Linked DNA regions of Homo sapiens: all the other regions are linked to region 2. Evidence: fine-mapped expression QTL. A gene starts in region 2. Each other region holds a variant in brackets. All regions are shown on one strand. Distances are between the middles of the regions.

Region 1 (5,827 bases), 54 kb after region 2:
AGTTGGCAAAGTTCATACATGACCATATTTAATCATGTCTTGTTGAAAGTTGTGTGTGTGCGTGTGTGTGCATGCACATTGGGCATAAAGTCATGCAAATGCTTCCATTTCATGCATTTATGACTGATTTATTATAAATGATTTATCATCATTTATCTCAGTCATAAGGTACAGTGGACGTCTATGAGAATACCTTTCATTGTTTACCAAAATATAGCCTAAACAGGGGTGTCCAATCTTTTAGCTTCTCTGAGCCACATTGGAAGAAGAAGAATTGTCTTGGGCCACACATAAAATACACTAAGACTAACAATAGCTTATGAGCTAAAAAAAAATAATAATTGCAAAAAAACCTCAAAATGTTTTAAGAAAGTTTATGAAATGTTTGTGTTGGGCTGTATTTAAAGCTGTCTTGGGCCACATGAGGCCCGTGGACTGTGGGTTAGACAAGCTTCGTAGAACCATCCTTGAGGCAATATGGGTATTGTTTTAGCAAACCCATTACTAACAAATTGAACATTTGGGATTTTAACAGTAACCTTCTTTCCTGAAACTTATTTATTTATTTATTTATTTGAGTCAGCATCTTGCTCTGTCCCCCAGGCTGGAGTGCAGGGGCTCCATTTCTGCTCACTGAAACCTCCGCCTCCCATGTTCAACCAATTCTCGAGCCTCAGCCTCCCGAATAGCTGGGATTACAGGCGCCTGCCACCATGCCTGGCTAATTTTTGTATTTTTTGTAGAGACAGGATTTTACCATGTTGGCCAGGCTGGTCTGGAACTCCTGACCTCAAGTGATCCACCCACCTAGGCCTCCCAAAGTATTAGGATTACAGGTGTGAGCCACCATGCCCAGCCCATGAAACATTTAAATATTACTTATGTACCACTCTACGCATCCAGTTTAATAATCTGAGTGATCATAGGTAATTGAGTGCTCCCTTGAACAATAAGCATCATTTTTTATGTGCTGCGATAGTTATCACAGATGCTTCCAGCCACTTAATCCCTGCGGTGTGAAGGTTACATTTCAGATTGAGGTTTCCAGTAAAGGTATAAGAAAATCTTAAATGAATACCCAAAGCATTATTTATTTTTTTTTTAGAAGCCAAACTGAATTTGTGGAAGAAAAATAAGTCAGCGTTTAATGGATGGAACAGAGAGTGGAAACATCTGACAGAACAGTAGGAAACTTTGTTCTGTTTTGAACGCCTCACCACTACTCATACCATCTGTCATGCATTTCTCATGAAATAAACAATTTTCAGAATTTTTTTGTCCAGGGAAGAGACATTTTGTGTTTTATTGATTTATTTATCCTATGTAGACTTAAGGTAATGACATTTAAGAAAATAACTTTTGAAGGAGATACTTTTATCAAAACAGGTAGTACTTGTTTTATTTGAAAGCCTTTCTCAAGGACATGAGATGGGGATACACATTATAATTCATAGATTGAATGGGAAATGTGGGGGGCGGCTTGGAAAGAGAGGAAGTGATGCCGAGAGCAAATACTGAATTTCCTGCCGTTTTTATTTCCCAAAATCAGAGTGGCTGAGAAAGGGCTGGCTGAGAGAAGGAGCTGGGGGAAAGAAAAGGAAGGATGACTTTTCTCCAGGGCTGGGTTGGGGGGGGTCTCCTTCATAAAATTTTTGAACTGTCGCCACAATCTGGCAATATTTTTATGCCAGAGGAAAGAGGACATTCTCCTCGTTATTTACGGTTTTCATCGGATGTCTCAGTTGATTGTACAAGTTTCTTCCGATCATTCCATGTGTGAAAATTAGCTTTTCTTAAATAGTTATCTTAATAGTCCAGGGCGTTTCCATAACAGTCCAATAACACCCTTGACGTTGAATACTAGTGGCTTAATATGTTTTCAACATTCTGTTTCTATGATTTTTTTTTCTGTGTAATAACTTTCATCTTCAGTTTTCAACTTCTTGTTTCTTCTATCCTACAAGTGCTATTTTTCCCATCTCGAGGAGAAGAATGTTGTGTTATTAGGTTCTGAATGGAGTCTCAACTTCAATGCAGTTCTGTGTTCTTGGGCAAGTTCCTCAACCTCGTGTTTCTTCAATCATCTATCTGCTCCTCGTGGCTGTGGTGAAGGTTGAATGAGATAATATATTTAGAGCATCTGGTTTGTATTAGGAAATAAATGTTTATTCCCTCCCCACACTGTTTCCTCATTGTTCCTATTACTGAGTTCATCTTTCCTGTCCTGGCTTTCATCCCTGGGTCTCTCCTCTTCCCCTGTGTTCATGGCACCGCTTTGTCCTTCTCATGGATGGGACAACAACAACTAACAAGACAGAGGGGCTGTGGGCCGAGGTGACTCCCCCTACGTTTCGCTATGCGCAATACAATTTTAAGGCTTCACAATTTGTATTTCATAAAGCAATAAAAAGCACTGGGCGTTAAACCACCAGAGCTATTCTGGCCTTTGCTCATGGTTTTGAAATCAGATTTATCCTTCATCTACATACCTCACTATCTTCTGAGGTCCAGCCATATTTTGTTGCTTTCTTCCTTCAAATCCCACACCTTCATCATATCTTTATTTGTAATCTCATTATCCTTTTGCTTTCTATTAACATTTCCCCCCACCCCCCTTTAGACTCTCCTCAAATTGGCTATCCATTTGAAAGTAACAGTGATTTCTTCTGGTTAAATACGGTGGCCTTTCATCTCTAAATTTTATCTACCTGTACTGGTGTGGATGAGAATTACCAGGATTAACACTACTCTGTTCTGTGGTAGCTCCTGTGTCTTCACACCTCTCATCCCTGCCCTGCATTCCCATACATGGCCCAGCTTCAACTAATGGTGTCTCTTTACCTAAGACACCTTTTGTAACCATTTCTTTTCTCTTTTTCTAGG[C/T]GCCAAAAAAACCTCAAACTCCACTCATTTTCTATTTTATTCACAATGACATCTTCCTCTTAGAACCTCCTGTAAATCCTTGTGGTCTTTCCCTCCCGTCATTTACCTTGTATTAGCAACTATACTGAAATATTAAAATGCGATTTTCATTATTACTACCTTGTTCAGAAACTTGCCTCTCAATTGACAGTTTCTTAAGGTTAGTATGGAAACTAAGTTTCAAGGCTTCCCAGCCAGTAATGCCCTGTGATTTGCTTCGTCCTTATTTTTCTCTGAATACTCTTTTCCAGAAAGGCTTCTAGGTATGTAGAAGAGAATCCTGTAACGGACACATTACTTTGGCTTTTCCTTGGCCAGTGGTAACAGGTAGGGAAGCACGTGCAGAATTATCAGAAACCACAGAGGAGAAAGTGGAGAAAACAACTTTGTCTGTGGCTCCATGTGCTAATTTACATCAAGACAACAATGTACTCACTAGCTTTTCTCAAAATCAGAGAATTGTTCAGGGCTATTTAAAACCATTAAGATTGTTTGCTATTACTTCATACAAACAAGCCCCTGGCCAAATAACAATAACTTAGCTTTCTAGCTCTGCTTTTTTTTTTTTTTTCTTGAGATGGAGTCTCACTCTGTCTCCTATCTCCTAGGCTGGAGTGCAGTGGTACGATCTCGGCTCACTGCAACCTCCGCCTCCTGGGTTCAAGTGATTCTCCTGTCTCAGCCTCCCAAGTAGCTAGGATTACAGGCGCATGCCACCACACCTGGCTAATTTTTGTATTTTTAGTAGAGATGGGGTCTCACCATGTTGGCCAGACTGGTCTTGAACTCCTGACCTCAAGTGATCTGCCTGCCTTGGCCTCCCAAAGTGCTAGGATTACAGGCATGAGCCACCACGCCCGGCTCTTGCTCTGCTTTTTAACAGCACTAAAGCCAAGTATTCAAAGCAAATGTTTCTCATGAGCCCTTTTCCAAGAACCAGTCTAATGGCTTCCATGCTGTTAATTGTGTTTATTACAAGGGCTGGTAACTTAGTACTCACATTCCTAGTAGACGCAAATACTTATGCTGACATTTGCGTTGGTTTGGCATGATCCCCATAGTTTCTGCATGAGAACAAGGCTGACTGGCCCATTTTCAACTAGCATTCCCAAGTATTCAGAAGGGCTTCTTCTCTCTCACCCTCCTTGTAGTTTCCCTCACTTCACATTCTCTCTAAATCCTTTCCTTCCAATATTCATTGAGCCACCAAGTTGATGCCTTTTTCACATTGTGTTTGCACAGTTAAAGCTAGGTTGGTCTCCCTGCCACTAGTCCTCAGACTTTAATCTATGCCACCTGTCACAGGGAGCTTAGATTTCCTAGGGCAGAGTTGGAAGTCCTTCCTCCTTCAAAACTTGATTGTTCTCCATTCCGGAGGCCATGAGTTGTGGCAGTCAGGGTCCTGCACTTGTCCAGCATCGTGACCCCAGATGCAAAGAAAACTTACACTTTGTATGTATAGTGTCTTCTCCTGACCCTTTTTCAGGAAGATCCTTCCACCCTACTTCCCATTCTCAGTTTCTTAAACTTACTTATCCTTTAAAAACAACCCAGACAAAAATTCTACCTCCTCCGTGAGGCCTTCCCAGGATTCCTTTAAAAATGGGCTCTTATGAATTACAATTTTTGTTACCCATATTATAGATACAAGATTATTTAAGGCTCTAGCTCTATCAGGTGAGCTGACACTTTATCTTGCATTTATAATTATTTTCTGATTGCTTCAAGAGTCTCTATCAATTAAAATCTTGCCTTATTATCTATAGTTCTTGTTTCATTCTTTCCTAATATGTTAATCAGGAAATACTGGCATATCTTTTAAAAATGCTTATGAGACAGTGATATGTTGGGTTCACCTTGGCCAGTTAAGACATAGGATTTAGAAAATAGGAAAAGGCAGGTGAGCAACATATAATGATTGAATAGATACATTACTATACAAACAATATATATGTTTTCTTTCTTTTAATTCGTTCTCCACACTGTAGCCAGAATGATGTTCCACCTGCTTACGTTGCTTCCCTGCTCAAGCCCTTTAAAATCTCACCATTGCTTTTAGGATGCAGAAACCCTTAAGACACCTCATTATGATCTGGTTCCTATTTACCTCAGTAGCTTCCACTCCACTCCATGCCACTGATCTTGTCACATTGAACTTGTCTCTCTGATGAGTCCTTACCCTCTCCGGGCCTTTCTAAATGTTGTTACCTCTATGGGATATAATCTTCCTGCCCCTCTGCCACCCTCATTCCTCAGCAAATTCCAACTCATCCTTTGGATCTCTGCTTAGACATCATTTCCTCTGGGAATCTCCCTCTGACTATCCAGGACTCAAACAAGTGCCCTTCCAAGATTCTCTGACAGCTCATGCACTGCTCCAGCATGGGTCTGTGTTATTATTGCCCATTTAGCAGCCTGACTCCCTGACTTGGCTATCTTTGTGAGGGCAGGGCTGTGCCTGTCCTGTACACCAGTTACACCCCAACATAGCCTAGGTTGGAAAGATTTAATTTTATTTATTTATTTAAAAAAAATAACATGTAGCAAGATTTACTTTTATAAGTGAATATATCTCTTTTTCTACCTTTATCTATATCTATCATTATGAATATGTATGTATGAATACATAATAAATATAGATAAATATAATGTTACATATATTATATTAAAAGTAATGGCAAAACAGCAATTACTTTTGCACGAACCGCATATAATATAATTCTTAAGATGATAGGTCTGGTGAGTGACAAGGTGGGTACTCCTGATGTAGGAGGTTGTCTAAATGTGTCTTAGACTAAATATTTTAGAACACTTATACGCTGTCTTAGGACTTCTATCTTTGATAACCCTTCACTTCTGATCTGTGTAAAATGTCTTTCTGATTCCTTTCTGACTTCCTCCTTTA
Region 2 (5,827 bases):
CTTCTAGACACCTCTCACACCCCTTGTCTCCTGGCTCCATCCTCCATCTTCAAACCCAGCATTGTCGTATCTCTCTCTGACTTTCTTCCAGTCACATCTTCCTCCAACAAGCTCTTGTCTTCTGTTTCCCTATTCCTTTTAAGGACCCTTGTAATTACATTGGGCCCAATGGGATAACTCAGGATAATTACCCTATTTTAAGGTCAATTGATTTGCAATCTTAATTCCATCTGCAACTTTAATTTCCCTTTGCCATGTAACCTAATGTATTCACAGGTTCCTGGCATGAGAATGTAAACATCTTTGGAGGCCCATTATTCTGCCTACCACACCAAGACAGTGTTCTTTTTCCATTTACTAACTTCAATTTTCCAAAAACACCTTAGTTCTCTTACAGTTTCTCAATACTAGGAAAAGAAACCATTGGAGAATAACAGTATAAGATTACTGGTAGCAACAATGTGTATTTCAGTTTTTGACCATAAGCTCTGAATCTACTGGAATGACCCTCATACCCAAGGAGAGAAATGAATACAGCCAGAATGGCCACTGCCACATAATCATCTGCTCCTGGATGCATAGAGCCTGAGATTCCTGACTCAGATCCTGGTAAACTGAAGCCATGGAATATGGAATCCAACTGTGGCTATCAGGATAAATGATTCCTGCAATCCAAGTTGGCTAGAAAAAAGGGCCTTCACATTACAATTTTAAAAAGTTAAACTCTTGCAAAATTACTCCAATAAACTTAGACTCATTAATATTGTACAAGGCACTAGGTAATAAAGTTTACGGTCTTTTTAACATTAAAAGTGAAAAGTAAAATGGCTAAATTATAGTAGCCTAATCATTTCATGCCATTACTGAGGATTGACAGGTTGGTTGTTTTAACAGCTGTACAATGCTTAAGCTCTAAGGATTCTAAATCTCAAATAATAAAAAGAATAACACTTTGCATGAATGTTTTTATGAATATATCTCAGACATACTTTCTCACAGGCACTCTTTGTTAAAGATAATTATTATGTTTCAATCAGGAGCCACAGAGTAAAAAATTACAACGCTGGCTAAAGGTCCTATACAATCTGAAGCTAAATATGAAGCAAAGTAAATGTTTCACATTTGAATCTACTGTCTGACTTCTGGGATAGAAAAAGTCCTGTATGGTGATTAGTATTTAAAACAGGCAAGTCCAATCATTGAATGCTAAAAGATAAATTATATGACAGCATATCAAGCTGACTCTACTATGGTTTCATGTCACACAAAGGTTATGAGAGGTATATCATTTCTTCTGAGCCTTGTTTTTCAATGCACAGTAAGCAATGCTAATTATGAAAAGCAGGCATCTCTTGGGTTAACCAACACCCTCAATTTCTACCTCTGTTCACCTGCTGACCCCTGCCTTGCTCCCACAACACAGCATCTACTGCAAGAGTGATGCTGAGGGCTGTTTCTAGAACCTATGGCTCCCACAGCATCTCTGTATTCTTGCCCAGCACTGCTCTTTAGCAACATTCAAATAGGCCAGCTCTAAGTAAGATCTGACTTAGGAATGGGATAAGGCAGTGTCCCAAAAGGAGTTTTGCTCACATAGCCCCTCAAAGAATTCTGAAAATCTATGCACATATTTTTAAATAACATCTCAACATCCTTAACATAGTTAAGTGTAAACACTTGAAAAAGGGACATCTTTCTGGCGCTCTATGGGTGGTATGCTTGCTTCATATACATATGCATCAGAACCTCAGGGTTGCAGATTTAGCTCATTCAGTATACAGAAAATGTCTGCTACACAACATAATTGGCAAAGCCAATCCTCATTGACAAGCCAATCAACCCAATAAGACTTTCTGTCAAGGCAACTCCGACATTGTTGTTCAATCAAATATAAAGATAGCCCTGGTGACAACCATCTATCTTCTGGAAGCTAAAAGGAACAGACAGAAAAGCACACCTCAGAGTCTTGTCACGGGCTCCTCACTTGGATGAATGGGGAGAATGAAAGGAGAACTGGCAGGCATCACGCATGTTCAGAGGGAAATTAGTTTCAAGCAGAGTTGGAAGATGAGGATCTGAAAATTAAAACCCTTGCAACATTCTATACCCTGTGAAGTCTTGTGGGCCTAAGGGTATGTGCACAGTTTGGAGACTGCTGGGCAACAGAATTGAAATTCCACTCTGAAAGTATCTAATATAATGCAAATATAAGGTGTTATTTTTAAACCAAAAGCCTCTCTGCATTTCTTTGAGGCATCCTAAGCCTTTGGAAATTTTTAAAACAGGTATCATGTTCTCTTCATCAGAATGGAGGGTCAACAAGAGATTATAATCTTGCTGGTGTAGCCAACCAACTGTATAGTCTTGGATAAACAGTTCAGGGAGTCCCAGGAATTGGTTCTACAATTTCTCTGAGTGCTTTAGAACTTCATTGCTTTTGTTTTAAGCCTCTTCCTAATAATCTTTTAGCGTGTGTCTTAGTCACCTTTACCCTGAAATTCCTAGGTCCATCCATGAGTTCATTATTGGGCCTTATGCCCATGTTCTGTTCTCCAGGGAGGTTGAAGAGGGCCTTTTAGTGCCAGAAATAGAAAAACTTTCAAAATGATATACTAATAATAACCTGCACCTGTCAAGATTATCATATTGTGCCAACAGAGGAGCTGCTTATGCAAACTACTGTAAATTTGTACATGGGAAGACAGAGAAGTGTGTACAGTCACCTTGGAAATGCACTTTGAACATCTCTGTCTCCTAATATGTACGGGGTAAAGGTTGAAAGTAAATTATTGACAATGGGGGAAAAAAACAGATGCAAAGAAGACAACTTTATTAGGTGCTTTCTCTCCCTTATGAGAAGGATTTGGTTCTTTCAGGTGAAGTTCCAAATCACTAGACAATACCCAGTTTCCTTCAGTTGCAACAAGTTCATCCCACGGTGGGTGCTCTGAAAAGCACCTTGAGGGCGAATGGGTCTCAGGCCATTCAGGATCAGGTCCGATGCTTTTGTTGAAGATTCTTCCCGTGTCACCTCTTAGAAGCAGTTCGGTGTCCCCCTCCAAAGAGCCCACCACCTGGCTGCGCCCCACCTCCATTTGTCCCCCAGTTGCCAGGTAAGGGTACCCAGCTACCAGGTAACGGTGAGTGGTTCAGAAGGTGCCGCTGCGGGGGCAGCCAGGCCTTCACACGCAATCACTGGGGAAGAGGCGAGGACACGGGTGGATGCTGGAGGCGCGCACGTGCGCAGGTGCTCGCGCATCCACACACACACACACACACACACACACACACGCACACACAGGCACGGGGTGCGGGGCGAGCAGGGGGAGGGGACGGCCTTACCAGATCAATGAACGTCAGGAATTTCCAGCTCCCTCCGTAGGTCTGGTGTGAGGGCATTTCGATGGCCTTGTAGTTACACAGGATAGAGCAGTAAGACAGCAGGATTGCCATCCGCAGCACCTGGCAGGGGACAAGCGCCATGTTCGCCAGAGGCCTGGACCGGCTGGGCGGCAAGGAGGGCGGGCGTGAGGGAGGCGCCGGGCGCGCGGGGGCGGGCGCCGTGGGAACCCGGGCGCGGGCGCGGGCGCGGGGCGGGGCGGGGCGGGGGCGGGGGCGGGGGCGGGGCGCGCGCCCCCGGGGACTGGCGCGGCCGCGAGCGCCCGGGTGACCTGTACTGGCCGGGCGCGGTTTGCGGACGCTCTCCACTGCCGGCCGCGGCCTGGCAGGCGGCGTGTCGTCATCTCTTTCGTCACCTTCGTCATTCTGCTCCTGCGTTCGCAGGGTCCCGGGACACCCGGCCAGGAGGCGCCCCCTAGGCATCCCAGGTGTGGATGCGACCTCTGAGTGCTACGAGGGCTCGGGAAGTGCGCGCTGATCTCCAGGGGGAAGCGGGCCCTGTGGCTAGTGGGCGCCGGGCCGGGCGAGGGGGCGGGGAACCTAGACTGAAGGAGTGGACCCCAGTGTCCACAAATGTTCCCGCCCCGGAATCGCGGTGACGCTTCCTGGGGTAGTTGCAGTTGGCCGAGAGCTGGTGCCCCGTGCGGAGGGATCCGGTGGGGGTGTGAACGTGGGGTGTAAACCCGAGCACAGGCAGCCGCGAGTGACTTTCAGTATTTTGGGGCAATAAGGTTTTCAGTGTTGACAAACGACTGTCAATCACTAGGAAACTCTCTCAATTCTGCTTTCAATGGGTAGGCTACGCAGCACTTTTCCATGACAGATTGAATAATGTCATATCAGTATATAACATCAGCTAGAATATGAACTTTGGACAAGAGGTTTATAGATAAAAAGCTATAAAGAAAGGATTTTCAAATAACTTTCTGCCACAAGATTGCATTCAGCTTTAAAAAATTCCAATTTTGGATGTAAAACCCCTGCGTGTAATTTAATACTAATCATCTGGTTGTTAAACTGGTTTTGCCCTTACTTTTTTCTTACACTACACTACCAGGGCTTAATGGAAGGAAAATAAATATAAACTGGAGTCCCTCCTGCCTTCCAGTAAATGTTGTCACACTGAAGTTGCATCAGTCTGTGGGCAACATTTTCATTTCAGCCAACCAGTTGCAGGTTCGGATTATGAAAAGGCAACATAGGTATTTCCTGTGGATCCATTTAAAACAGGTGTCCTCTTCAAATAGTCTCTGAGTCAGAGGATGTGGAGGGAGGGCTGGTGGGGAGAAGCATAGTGCTAGAGGTAAAGAGAAAGTAGCAAGCAAGCCATGGATGTTTTCCTGAATGTTTCCAATCAAGCTCTAAACTAAAATGAAGAGACCCACTAGATTTTTTTAATTGGCATTATAATTATGCTAATAGAACTGATGTCAGAAGAAGATTCTACTAGCATTAAAACGATGTATTATTGATGATTTTTGGTTAAATCTTAATGTAAAAGTTGGCTTTATTTTTTTAATTGTGCATCCTTGGTACATGGTTATAAACTGCCAAAAAAATAAAAATAAAAAAGAGTAGATCTATTGAAGATCTACCTACCTTAATAATGTGTCTGGAATTGGTTCCTGCCGGTAGATTAGTGGTCTCAGTGACTTCAAGAATGAAGCGGCAGACCTTGGTGGTAAGTGTTACAGCTCTTAAAGATGGCACAGACCCAGAGTGAGCGATAGCAAGGTTTATTGTGAAGAGTGAAAGGACAAAGCTTCCACAGCATGAAAGGGGACTGGAGCGGGTTGCTGCTGCTGGCTGGGGTGGCCAGCTTTTATTCCCTTATTGTCCTCTCCAGTGTTCTGTTTCTGTCCTATGAGAGTGCCCTTTTTTCAGTCCTCCCTGCGATTGGCTACTTTTAAAATCTTGCTGATTGGTGCGTTTTACAGAGTGCTGATTAGTGTGTTTTACAGAGTGCTGATTGGTGCTTTTTACAGAGCGCTGATTGGTGCATTTTACACTCCTCTTGTAAGACAGGCAAGTTCCCCAAGTCCCCACTTGTCTCAGGAGGTCCAGCTGGCCTCACCTCTCAATAGAGCCTTAATAAAGTTTTATGAGTTAATGTGATATTTGCAAAGTTTGATATACCCTTCCTACTTTACATGTTAGACAATTATTAAGACTCCCCAACCCCATTGTTACAAAATGAAATAATATTTTCATAAAGCCATTTTTAATGGTCAGGTTTTTTGTTTTGTTTTTCTTTTTGTTTTTTTGTGAGACAGAGTCTAGCTCTGTCACCCAGGCGGAAGTGCAGTGGCATGATCTCAGCTCACTGCAACCTCTGCCTCCTGGGTTCAACTATTCTCCTGCCTCAGCCTCCCAAGTAGCTGGGACTACAGGCGCATGCCACCACACCTGGCTAATTTTTTTTGTATCT
Region 3 (5,827 bases), 270 kb before region 2:
CACACACAGCTAGAGAACAATTTTGCTTCAGGATGACTCATACCCTGAGTGTCACGCATACCCAATTTTATGATATTTAAGATGAGATTTTGGACTTGAGAGTTGATGTCTGAAAGACGTTTGGGGTTGTTGGGATGGAATATTTTCATTGGGTGAAGGACATGTATTCTGGTGGGGAGAGAGTGAAGTATTATGAGCTGAACTCTGTCCCCCACTTCCAAATTCATATGCTGAAATCCTAACCCCCAGGATGTGGTTTTAAAGTCAGAATGTGACTTTACTTGGAGATAAGTATTTACAAATGAGGTCATCAGGGTGGGCCCTAATCAAATACAACTGGTATTCTTATACAAAGGGGAAATTTGGAGACTGGACTGAACATCAGTTAGAAGGCACTGGCTCTGCCATCACCTGTTCTGGAGGGTCACTTAAGATTTTGGGGCCTCAGTTACTTTTGGTGAAAGGAAAGGGTCGGTTTCGATGATTTCCAATCTCTCTTTCAGCAGTAAGATTCTGCAATAATGTGATTTTTATCTTGAAGTTGTAGCTAACATAAGTTACCCAAGTAGACAGAGTTGAGCTATTAAAAACCATTATGGAAAAAGGAGGGTGGCTCCAATGCAATCTTCCTTCTTCTTGGGGGATTGTATAGTAACTGATGTGAAATACTCAGGATTGTAGTACTGTACTCCCATGTCCTCAATTCATCCTAACACACTGCTTTTAGTGAGTAGTTTTTGACTCAACAGCTAACAGAATCAGGCAGCTAATGTGACTGAGTAAAGTGGCCAGGTGAGAACGAGGGAAAGTTAGTCATCTAAAGTGGATAACTGATACTCAATTCTTTTTTCTTTTCTTTCTGTTTTTTTTTTTTTTTTCTGAGAGTTTCACTCTGTGGCTCAGGATGGAGTGTGGTGGCACGATCTTGGCTCACTGCAACCTCTGCCTCCAGGTTGAAGCGATTCTCGTGCCTTAGCCTCCCAAGTAGCTGAGATTACAGGCATGTACGCCCGGCTCATTTTTGTATGTTTAGTAGAGATGGAGTTTTGCAATGTTGGCCAGACTGGTCTTGAACTCCTGGGCTCAAGTGATCTGCCCACCTTAGCCTCCCAAAGTTCTGAGATTACAGGTGTAAGCCACCGTGCCCAGCCAAGGGATAACTGATACTCTATTCTAAACCATTGTCACCAGAATAGAACAGTGGGCTCTGTGTTCCAGATCTTAAAATATTTCCTAAGAAGCTGAAAATCTGGCCTTCATGTGAAATCTCCTATTTTTTTTTTTTTTTTTTTTGAGATGGAGTCTTGTTCTGTTGCCAGGCTGGGGTGCAGTGGCATGATCTCAGCTCACTGCAACCTCTGCCTCCTGGGTTCAAGCAGTTCTCCTGCCTCAGCCTCCCGAGTACCTGGGACTACAGGCACACGCCACCATGCCTGGCTAATTTTTGTATTTTTAGTAGAGATGGGATTTCACCATGTTGGCCAGGATGGTCTCCATCTCTTGACCTCGTGATCCACCTGCCTCAGTCTCCCAAAGTGCCGGGATTACAGGCATGAGCCACTGCGCCCAGCCAAAATCACCCAATTTTAAAATACTGATTCAAAAACAAAAATTCCACGATGTAGGCCTAACAGAACTTGATAGGTAGAAGTTGGGGGAGGCCAGCAGTTTGTGACCCCTCTTGTAAATGAGGATGATACTTACTTGGCACAAAACATCTGTCTTTGTGGAACTAACTAGATGGTCCTAGGTACATAAACTTAATTTTCATATCTAAAATGAATTTTTAAAAAAAGTTAGTCAATCTTATGTTACTTAAAAGAATGGCATAAATTAAACAAATCATTCAAAAAACCTTAATTTCATTATTCATTTTTAACTCCTCATTCAAAGCTGCTAAAAAGCAGTATTCTATTAATGTAGAGTGGATATTTCTCTCTAGTGGTTTTCAGGTCATCCTCTCATAGAAGTAGTAGAACTGTGGCCAAATGACTGTCAAATCAATCAAGTCAAGTGTAAGCAGGTACTTAAGTACTTCCTGAATAACATATATTGGACACATTCGTTTAAGTTTAAATACAGTTTTTCTTCCAAGAAGCTGAGAAAGGTTTATATTTTGTTCTCAAAATATTTTTGTCAAGTAACTAAATACTTCTGTAAATTAATGGAGAAAGATCACTATTTCCATTGAACAGGTGGAACATTATTAAAAGATTAGTGTCTTGTTCCCCAAGCTGTGGCCTGAACAGAATTAAAAATGTTGATACTTTTTCTAATAGAACATTGATTAAAATCAAAAGCTGATGAGAAAAGAAACCCTCAAATTCCTCTGCGCCATTTAACATTGGCTAATACCCTGACACATACAATCTTAGAGGATCCACACACACAAAAGTCTGATTCAGTAACCATGCACAGTAACCATGCACTCACTGTGCGTTATTTGTCTGATTCCATTGAGCTCCTGGCAGGGTGTCTGGCACAAAGCAGGGTGCTCAATGTCTGTGTCACAGAGTCCATTTACTGGGGATGTCTAGAATGCTGTGATTGTGTCAGAGGAAAGAGCCAGGGCTTCCTAAAATCTCCAAACCATCTTGCCTTTGGATGTATTTTCATGCAGGACTCAATCACTACATGTCTGTGCTGGCGCTTTTTCCACCTTTCAATTTTTATGTTATTGTACATACACTTTGGACAGGTTTTGCACAGCTTGGATAAGATTACGTGCCTTGCCAAGATGGAGGCTCTGCCATAAATGGAAACAAAAGAGAAATCAAATCACAGGTTAAAAGAGTTTTTCCAGCCACGAAATATTATCTTTTACTGCTTGTAGCTCTTTGCCACTTTCAGACTTTCCGTGACAGCCACTGGTGAGTCAAGGTGGCCGGAGCATCACACACTGCTTAGATAGAGCTCTAGCAGAATGGTAGTAAGACCTCTCCCAGGTGACTGCACCCACATAGAAAGTGGAGATCTGGGTGACTTTAAAGGAGATTGGTTACATTTAATAATGTATCTATTTAATTTGAGGTCCCTTTAGCTAACTAAGGCAGCATTGTGTTGTTAATGAGGACAAATTTCCCTAATATATATTTTTTGCTAACACTACATTTTTCCCTATAAAATTTTATAGACAT[G/A]CCTCTTTCCTCTTTAGATTTGGAGGTTTTACTAGCTAACAAGACCAAGTGACTAGTAAAACTTTCAGGTAACTGTCAGCAGCTCTTAAATTCATATTGTAGTTTTAAAAATGGAGCTCTTTATAGGAGATCCTGTGTGAAGGCTAAAAGAAGAGGCTACAGTGGAATTTTCCCTCAGTCTCTGCATAGACTGTTGCCGGCAGTAATTCTCTTGTTTTATGTTCCCTCAGACAATACTTACTTTTCTGTGTATCCCAGATATAGTTGTTCAGAACTTCTCCCAGCAGGTACAGGAAGTTCATTAAGATGGTTGTAGACCCAAAGAAGATGATTCTGGCTCCTGGGCCAATGTGTTCCAGGAAAGGGTACACCCACATGCCAGTTACATGATGCACCCAGCACACCCTGCAAAAGAATCGGAAAGGAGACAAGGACAGGAGTCACTCTTATGGCAGGCATCAAAGCTGCTATGATGCAAATATACACTCCCTCACTCTCCCCATGCTTCAGCATTTGCCAGTCTCAAGTTCGCTTCTGATACTCAGGAGCTACTGGAAACTTGGTTGCTGTTTATTTTCATTTACTTTTTATTCTGAAATAATTTTAGACTCACAGAAGAAGCACAACACACTCAGCTTCCCCTCATGTTAACATCTTGTATAATCCTGGGACAATTGACTAAAATTAAAAAATTAACATTGATATGACAGTACTAAATTATAGGCTTTATTCAGAATTTCCCAGTATTCCTGTGAATGTCCTTTCTCTGTTCCAGGATCCAATCCAGGACCCCATGTGGTCTTCAGTCTTCACATCTCCGCAGTCTCATACTCTGGCAGTTTCTCAGTCTCTACTTGTCTTTGATGATATTTGAAGGGTATTTGAAATGGCTGACTTTATTAACACTGTTAAACAATCTGGTCATGTATTTGAAATGGCTGACTTTATTAACACTGTTCAACAATCTTTTAAATCTCTTCTTTACAGAATGAGACAATATGGCATTGGGCAACCACAGGAGAATAAGACCTAGGTGAGTCTGTGCCAGATACCTTGCCATATGGCCTTCCAACTAGACACCAACACTCATGCCATATGCTGACACAACCATGCATACCCTAGCAGGTACCAGCTTCCCACTCCTCTGATCTTCAGATGTGACATTGATTTCATTTTTTTTCCTATTTTACATTCTTACTTAATCATTCTCTTTGTGTTCCAGAAATATTTTTGACTCAGTGGGAATAGTAACATCATGAATTGCCACTGCTTTCAAAAGTTTAGTTAGAATATCGGCTCCATTGGCTTGGTCCTGACATGACTGCTTACAGCTGTTTTCCAAACATTCTTGAGTTCATTCCTTTATAAACTGTTGGCAATTGTGAAGACTAAATAAAATACAGATAACTCTATTGCATTGGGAATAAAGATGACTTTTCATACTTATGTGTTCTGAGGTCATTTTCCTTATCCTTGGCTTCACTCTAAGTGGTTTATCTACATATAAATATTACTGACAGGGTGCAGTGGCTCACATCTGTAATCTCAGCACTTTCGGAGGCTGAGGAGGGTGGGTCACCTGAGGTCAGGAGTTCAAGACCAGCCTGGCCAACATGGCGAAACCCCATCTCTATTAAAAATACAAAAATTAGCTGGGCGTGGTGGTGCGCGCCTGTAATCCCAGCTACTCGGGAGGCTGAGGCACAAGCATCACTTGACCCTGGGAGGCAGAGGTTGCAGTGAGCTGAGATCACACCACTGCACTCCAGCCTGGGTGACAAAGTGAGACTTGGTCTCAAAATAATAATAATAATAATAATAATAATAATAATAATAATAAACATTACCTACACATGTACCTCATTTTTGGCAGGAAACCTGGGGATCTATACCTGAGAACCTGCGTTATCAATGAGGGTGAGATCCCCCCTCTTCTTGCAGGCGAAAATTCATTCTGGGGTTGGTGGTAAAACAATTTTGCACTTTTTATGTAGAAAGCACAGATACACACACACACACATATACACACACACATATATACACACACACAGATGTACATATATGTATATAGAAACACATCAGTAGGTGAACAAACAATCAAATGTGGCATATGCATGCAATGGAATATTACTCAGCCATAAAGAGGAGTAAAATGTTGATACATGCTACAACATGGATGGACCTTGAAAACATTATGCTAAGCAAAATAAGCCAGACACAGGTCACATATTGTATATGATTCCACTTATATGAGGTACCTAGAATAGGCAATTTCACAGAGACAGAAAGCATGGTATCTATCAGTTACCAGGGACTCGGGGGAGTGGAGAATAGGGAGTTATTGTTTAACGGGAACAGAGTTTATGTGGGGGGATGATGAGAAAATTTTGGGTATAGATACTGGTGATGGTTACACAATGTTGTAAATACATTTAAGGACATTAAATAGTATACTTGCAAATAGCTAAAATGACAAATATTATGTTATGTATATTTTAGCACAATAAAAAATGTTCCTGTGGTGGAAATTAGGAAAAAAAAAACAGGTCTACAAAGGTTCCTTGGTAGAGGGAAGTAGTAATGAAAGAAAGATTGAGGAACAATCTTACAGCAAAGAGGCATTCTCTAGGTCTGTCCAGGTCAGTCTCAATCACTGTCCAAACAAAAATATTTGTATCAAAAAAAGAGGC
Region 4 (5,827 bases), 180 kb before region 2:
ACTTGGGAGGCTGAAGCAGGGGAATCGCCTGAACCCAGGAGGCGGAGGTTGTGGTGAGCCAAGATTGTGCCATTGCACTCCAGCCTGGCGACAGAGTGAGATGCTGTCTAAAAAAAAAAAATCTTGGACACCAAAGCCCAGGTGAGCTTCCCTGGTTGACAATATTTCATCCATATTATCACACAGCATCACAGAGAGGAGTTAATGCCCTATAACTCCATGGGGACAGAACAACTGGAAGCACATCTGAGCCCCTTCCAGGCTCTGCTGTATGAGCCTCTTCCCTTGGCTGACATTATTCTGTATCCTTTTCCTGTCATAAACCATAGCCATGAATATAACAGCTTCCAGTGGGTTCTGTGAGTCCTTTTTTTCTGTTCTATTTTTGAAGCCGAGAGTGTTTTGGGAACCCCTGAACTAGCAATTGGTGTGAAATGAGGACATTATTCCTTCTAATTTCACAGTTAGTTCTTTTGTTCATAGTTGGCTAAACCTTTTGCATTCTCTCACTGGCTGTCAAGAGGATTACATGAGTTTTTATATGTAAAACACACAGAACATTACACGGTATGTAAGTGCTCAGTAAATGTTGGCTATTATTTTATGAACTCCACACACAAACATTTACTTATCATTCAATGCAAATTTCTGTGGTGAATGGCTCAAGCAGATTGTCTCATTTAATTCCTGATGTGGTTTGGCTGTGTCTCCACCTAAATCTCATCTTAAATTGCCATGTGTTGTGGGAGGGACCCAGTGGGAGGTGATTGAATCATGGGGGCAGGTCTTTCCTGTGCTGTTCTTGTGATAGTGAATGGGTCTCATGAGATCTGATGGGTTTATAAGGGGGAGTTTCCCTGCACAGGCTCTCTTTTTGCCTGCTGCCACCCATGTAAGATGTGACTTGCTCCTCCTTGCCTTCCACGATGATTGTGAGGCCTTCCTAGCCACGTGGAACTGTAAGTCCATTAAACCTCTTTTTTTTTTTTGTAAATTGCCCAGTCTCAGGTATGTCTTTATCAGCAGTGTGAAAACAAATGAATACAATTCCTAATTAACTGTAAGAGGAAACTGAATGAAACTTAGAGGGCTTCGGTAGTTTACCTAAGTTGAGTCAATTAGGAGCAGAAGTGAGGCCCTAAACCAAGCTTGTCCCACCTGCAGCCCAGGATGGCTTTGAATGTGACCCAAAGCGAATTTCTAAACTTTCTTAAAACGTGAGGAGATTTGTTTTGCAACTTTTTTTTAAGCTCAACAGCTATTGTTAGTGTTAGTGTATTTTATGTGCGGCCCAAGACAATTCTTCTTCCAATGTGGCCCAGGGAAGCCAAAAGATGGGACAACCGTGCCCTAAACCCCGATCTTTGTGACCTGAACACACACCCATATGTCTTGAAAGCCTCTGCTTTTAGCTGATAAGCTATACCGCCTCATAAAATACCTCTGCTGAAGGAATTCACCAACTATGCGTTGCTGTAAGGATTACAGATGATGTTTGCAGGCTCCCAAGGAAAGTGTTCAATAAATGAGAGCAAAAAACATCAAGTTTCCAGTGTTTTTCCTTACAGGATAGAAACACTGAAATGATTCTGTAGGAAAAAGCTGGATGAAGAGCCCCACTTTTGGGACTGCTTCAGCACCCTCATCCCAAACTTGTTTATTTCTTTTCAAAGCAATTATCATTCTGTATGACTGTAGCTTTGGGAGGGGCAATATTTATTCTTGATTGGATTTTTGTACTGACATATGAAATGAATAAACATTTCAGTTTCTGAATTAGAGTGTATCAAATTCCATTATGGTATCAATAAAATGAAAGAAGCAGTAAATTTAGTGCAGAGCCTCAGGGGAAAAAATCAAATCACCATGAAACTCTACACACTCAAAATCTTCTCTGGAAGCTGTGTTGCTTTTTCTTTTTGTATACTTCTGTATTTGTTAAAAAAGAAATTCAGACTTTGGATAGTGGTAGGACTTTCCACTGAAATAAACTGAATAATACCTTCCATCTACCTTGAATGGTTATTGTAAGCATCAAATGATATAATGTATGTGAGAGAAAGTGTTTTGCCAACTATACTCTACTAATATAAGAGATTATTATAATATTAACTTGGGTAATGTTCAATGTTTTACTGAATAAACCCTTGTTCATTAACTGGGCTTCGAGATGGGTGACCCACCGTTCTCCAACTAAAAGAGACAATGGCTGCTGATCCTTAATGATGCTGATTTAGTGACAGGGATATTACAGATTTGTTTTGTTTTTCTACTTTGAAGGTTAAACTGTTGTTCAAATGAAGGACTGAGCATATTTCCTTCTTAGAGTAGCTATTTAAATATAATGACCTCTCAGAGAGTGAAGGTAAGTTCAAGTGCTTTGGGTTGTGAGAAAGGCTTTAGTGGTAACATAGCTTGGAGCTTGTGAACCCCAAGCTGAATTTATACATTTTTCAAAAAAAGAGGAATTAACTTGATATTGTAACATATCACAAAACACCTGATAAGACACTGAGATCCCAAGATTTCTCTAAAGAGCCTGCACAGACAGCACCTCTTTGCAGTTAAATCAGCTCTCCAGACTATACCTTGATGCTCACAGTGTTTTGTTTATGAAACTTCAGAGCAAACCATTGAAGGTGAAAGCCTTCTCTTTGCTATATCATCTGCTACAAGTATATAGTGCATTCTCAGCAGTGACATTATTAAAGCCCATACCCATGTGATCCATTTAGTACGTTATCAGAGCCTACTCAGTGTGCTGTGAATTCATGCAGCCCTTGGAATAATCTCATGGCCCCCAAGGGGTTTACATACCTTAGACTGGGATTTTTTCTGCAAGAAAAACCCTTAACATCTTACCTAGCAATCAAAGAGGTCAAGGTCTTGACCTGAGGCTGCCCCCCAACCTCTTGCTATTCCTCCACTCAGCCCCTAGGCTGGGGAAGCACCTGCAAAGTCCATGCCATTTACCTCCACCCCTTGTCTACCTTGATTGATAAGGGAACTCCCACATCCTGCCAATCTCGTCTGTGTTCATTTCCTCCGGGAAACACTCCTTACCTCCTTCAGGAATAGTTATTCCTCCTTCTGTCTTCCAGTACCATTTAACATATACATTCTATCATTTTATCTCACAATATTATAACTGCTGCTGGGTATGATTCCCTCAATAATCT[G/A]CCAGCTATTTGAGGGCAGGTGTCATGTGTACTCATCTTTGCGTTACTAGTGCTGATCATAGAAAGTAAACAGGTTTCAACTCATGACCCAGCTGTCATGGCTTGAAAGGACCTGCCTGAAGCACTGAGGTGAGAAGGATTTTGATGGCAAATCTAGGCCTGGCAGGAAAGAGTGTTGTGATGGATTAGCTATGTCTGTATTGGCAGCAGGAGGGGAGATGAGGTATGAGTGCCACATATGCAGTCTTCCCATAGAGGTGTGTGCTTGATAATGTTGGGATATGTTTTCCTATTTCACCCTCAGTGGTAGTATGGCAGTTCAGGGCAATACTTCTGAACCATAACCAGGTGGCAACACAGAGTTCTTTTTCTTCTTGATCAATTCATCGAAAGTCTCCTTCCTCCACTGTCCTATATCAATACTTTAACAATACCTATGTTACCACTGTCTACTGCCAAATAAAATGTACAAGTTAATTTGGGGTGACTTAAGATCAGATATCTTGAAAGATGAGATGTCACCTGGTAAAAAGATTCCGGGCATTTTGTAGTCTATGATACTTTATTGGGTTATTTTTAACTGGGAGGCTATTCAATGAAAAAAATAAAAGGCTAGGGTTCCAAGCAAGTGTATAATTATGGGAAGCACCTTGCTAATTCCAAGAATGTACAGGCTTCCTTTTTTTGAAACTTCTATTAGTGTTATTTTCATAATCTCATTTGGCATAGAAAGAATATCACTCCTGATGATGCATTCTAGAATTATTTATCTTTTATTGTCCTCTTGAATTGTTTTAGATAAGTGGTGAATGTCTTATTATAATTCCAACTCTGCATGTAATAAGGCTTTAGCACCTACATACCCAGCTGCAAATGTTCCCACATCATCAACTGATTATTTATCAAGTACTGAAAAGAAGTTGGACCAAGGATTTTTTTCTAAAAGGAAGATAGTGAATTTATATAAGCCTTGTGGAGTATGAAAAACACCGTCTAGCCTGATCTCAGGAACCAGCTCTATCTGCCCACAAACATTTTGTAGATCTAGGATGGAAATAATGTTGGCAGAACCCAATAACTCTAGTGGGTCATTCATATAGGCCATCAGATAGGCGCTAGTCTCAGTAACAGCACTTCACCTTCTACAACCACACGCAACCTGGGATAAGAGAGACAAATACCCCAGGACCAGCAAGGGCTCTCCATGGGGGCATATCCGCAGCCATGATGTCGCATGCACTTCCTGCAGAGATGCATGAAACATTACTATTTGTAAAAAATGGAAGTGTTTTGTGTCAGGCTAATGGGTGCTAAGTTTATCTTTCTTGGATTTTCCAAGCTTAAAAAAACTAATTTAGGTTTATCTGTAGGTGCCATCTTTCTGAGACTTCTTGGGCATGTGGTGACTCAGCATATGGATTTAGGATTCTCCTAAGCACCCCTATAATGGCACTGGGTCACTAACTCTAACAACGTGGCTGCATCAAAACAACCCATGGTTTAGAGTTAGACAGAAATGGATGTCGATACTGGCTCTGCCAATAACTAGCTGTGAGATTATGGTCATGTGATTTTACCTCTTTGTACTTTGATTAACTTTTTCATCTGAAAAATGGGGATAATGCCCCCTTCCCCATATAGTTGTGGGGATTAAACAAAGTTACATATAAAAACTGCCATACAGTAGAGTTTCAAAAAGCATAGCTATTTTATTATTATGGTTGTTATTATAGAAGGGTTATCACGTCCGCTAATTTGAGCTTGGTCATGAAATATAGTGGCTTGGGTTCTATTTTCCTCATATTACACAGCAACCCTGCCACTCAGTCTTCAGTTTGTTTTCTCTTGCCAGTGACTAGAATCCCTTGTTGTTTCTGAAATTTGGCTGCGTTCTTGCTTCTCCTGGCCTGAGGATAACTTCTCCTTACATTGCTATTGCTCGTGCTCATTCTAAGCCCTTCTCCCTACTGCTTTTCCTCTTTATCCTGGAGGGGGAGACGTGTCGACAGAGATCAAAACACAGCTGTGTGACTTAGGGATACACAGGTTGAGTATCCCTTATCCAAAATGCTTGGGACCATAAGCAGTTTGAATTTTGGAATATTTACATACACCTAATATCTTGGCGATGGGACCCAAATCTAAACATGAAATTCATTTATTTTTTACATATGCCTTATACACACAGCCTGAAGGTAACTTTACATGATATTTTAAACAATTTTGTGCATAAAACAAAGTTTGTGTTAGGTATCTCCATGTGAAGTTTTCCACTTGGGGTGTCTTATCAGTTCTCAAAAAGTTTTGGGTTTGGGAGCGAGCATTTCAGATTTTAGGTTTTCAGATTAGGGATGCTCGACTTGCATTGCTTAAATGCTCTGTGCTTCAGTTCCCTCACCTATAAAATAGGGAGAAAAACAGAACCCACCCACAGGGTTTTCCTGAGTATTATAATGAGTTGATGTTTGCAAATTCCTTAGAACAGTGCCTGACACACAGTGAGCACAGTGGAAGTATTTGTTAAATAAAATGAAGTACAAAGTGAAGCTTTTGATAGGAAGTTTAACAGTAGAGCGGCATGGAAATGAACTCTTTCCCTAGCTACTTTCTTTCTGTCTCTTAATGCTTCATCCCAGAAGTGGCAAGAT

Evidence for each region. PIP is the estimated chance that this variant, and not a neighbour inherited with it, causes the effect. A credible set is the group of variants that fine-mapping cannot tell apart.
Region 1: its variant is the best candidate, but not a certain one, in a credible set for the expression of AIG1 in whole blood (TOPMed, PIP 0.59).
Region 3: its variant is the best candidate, but not a certain one, in a credible set for the expression of AIG1 in thyroid (GTEx, PIP 0.59).
Region 4: its variant is the best candidate, but not a certain one, in a credible set for the expression of AIG1 in esophagus mucosa (GTEx, PIP 0.59).

What each region holds. Positions count from the first base shown.
Region 1 is chr6:143,004,149-143,009,975 of GRCh38, reverse strand. The region is part of intron 2 of LINC01277 (long intergenic non-protein coding RNA 1277); the gene reads left to right. Among named protein-coding and RNA genes, the nearest start is that of LINC01277, 31 kb to the left of the region's middle. The variant C/T (reference allele first, on the strand shown) is at 2,884.
Region 2 is chr6:143,058,582-143,064,408 of GRCh38, reverse strand. AIG1 (androgen induced 1) reads right to left here and starts at 3,520. Exons shown (of 6, transcript NM_016108.4): 1 at 3,343-3,520. The coding sequence starts at 3,483. RefSeq lists enhancers at 2,981-3,030, 3,631-3,760, 3,586-4,524 and silencers at 3,221-3,290, 3,541-3,630.
Region 3 is chr6:143,330,997-143,336,823 of GRCh38, reverse strand. It overlaps AIG1 (androgen induced 1), which reads right to left. Exons shown (of 6, transcript NM_016108.4): 5 at 3,379-3,542. Among named protein-coding and RNA genes, the nearest start is that of ADAT2, 120 kb to the left of the region's middle. RefSeq lists an enhancer at 2,658-3,857. The variant G/A (reference allele first, on the strand shown) is at 3,138.
Region 4 is chr6:143,241,434-143,247,260 of GRCh38, reverse strand. All of the region lies in intron 3 of AIG1 (androgen induced 1), which reads right to left. Among named protein-coding and RNA genes, the nearest start is that of AIG1, 180 kb to the right of the region's middle. The variant G/A (reference allele first, on the strand shown) is at 3,180.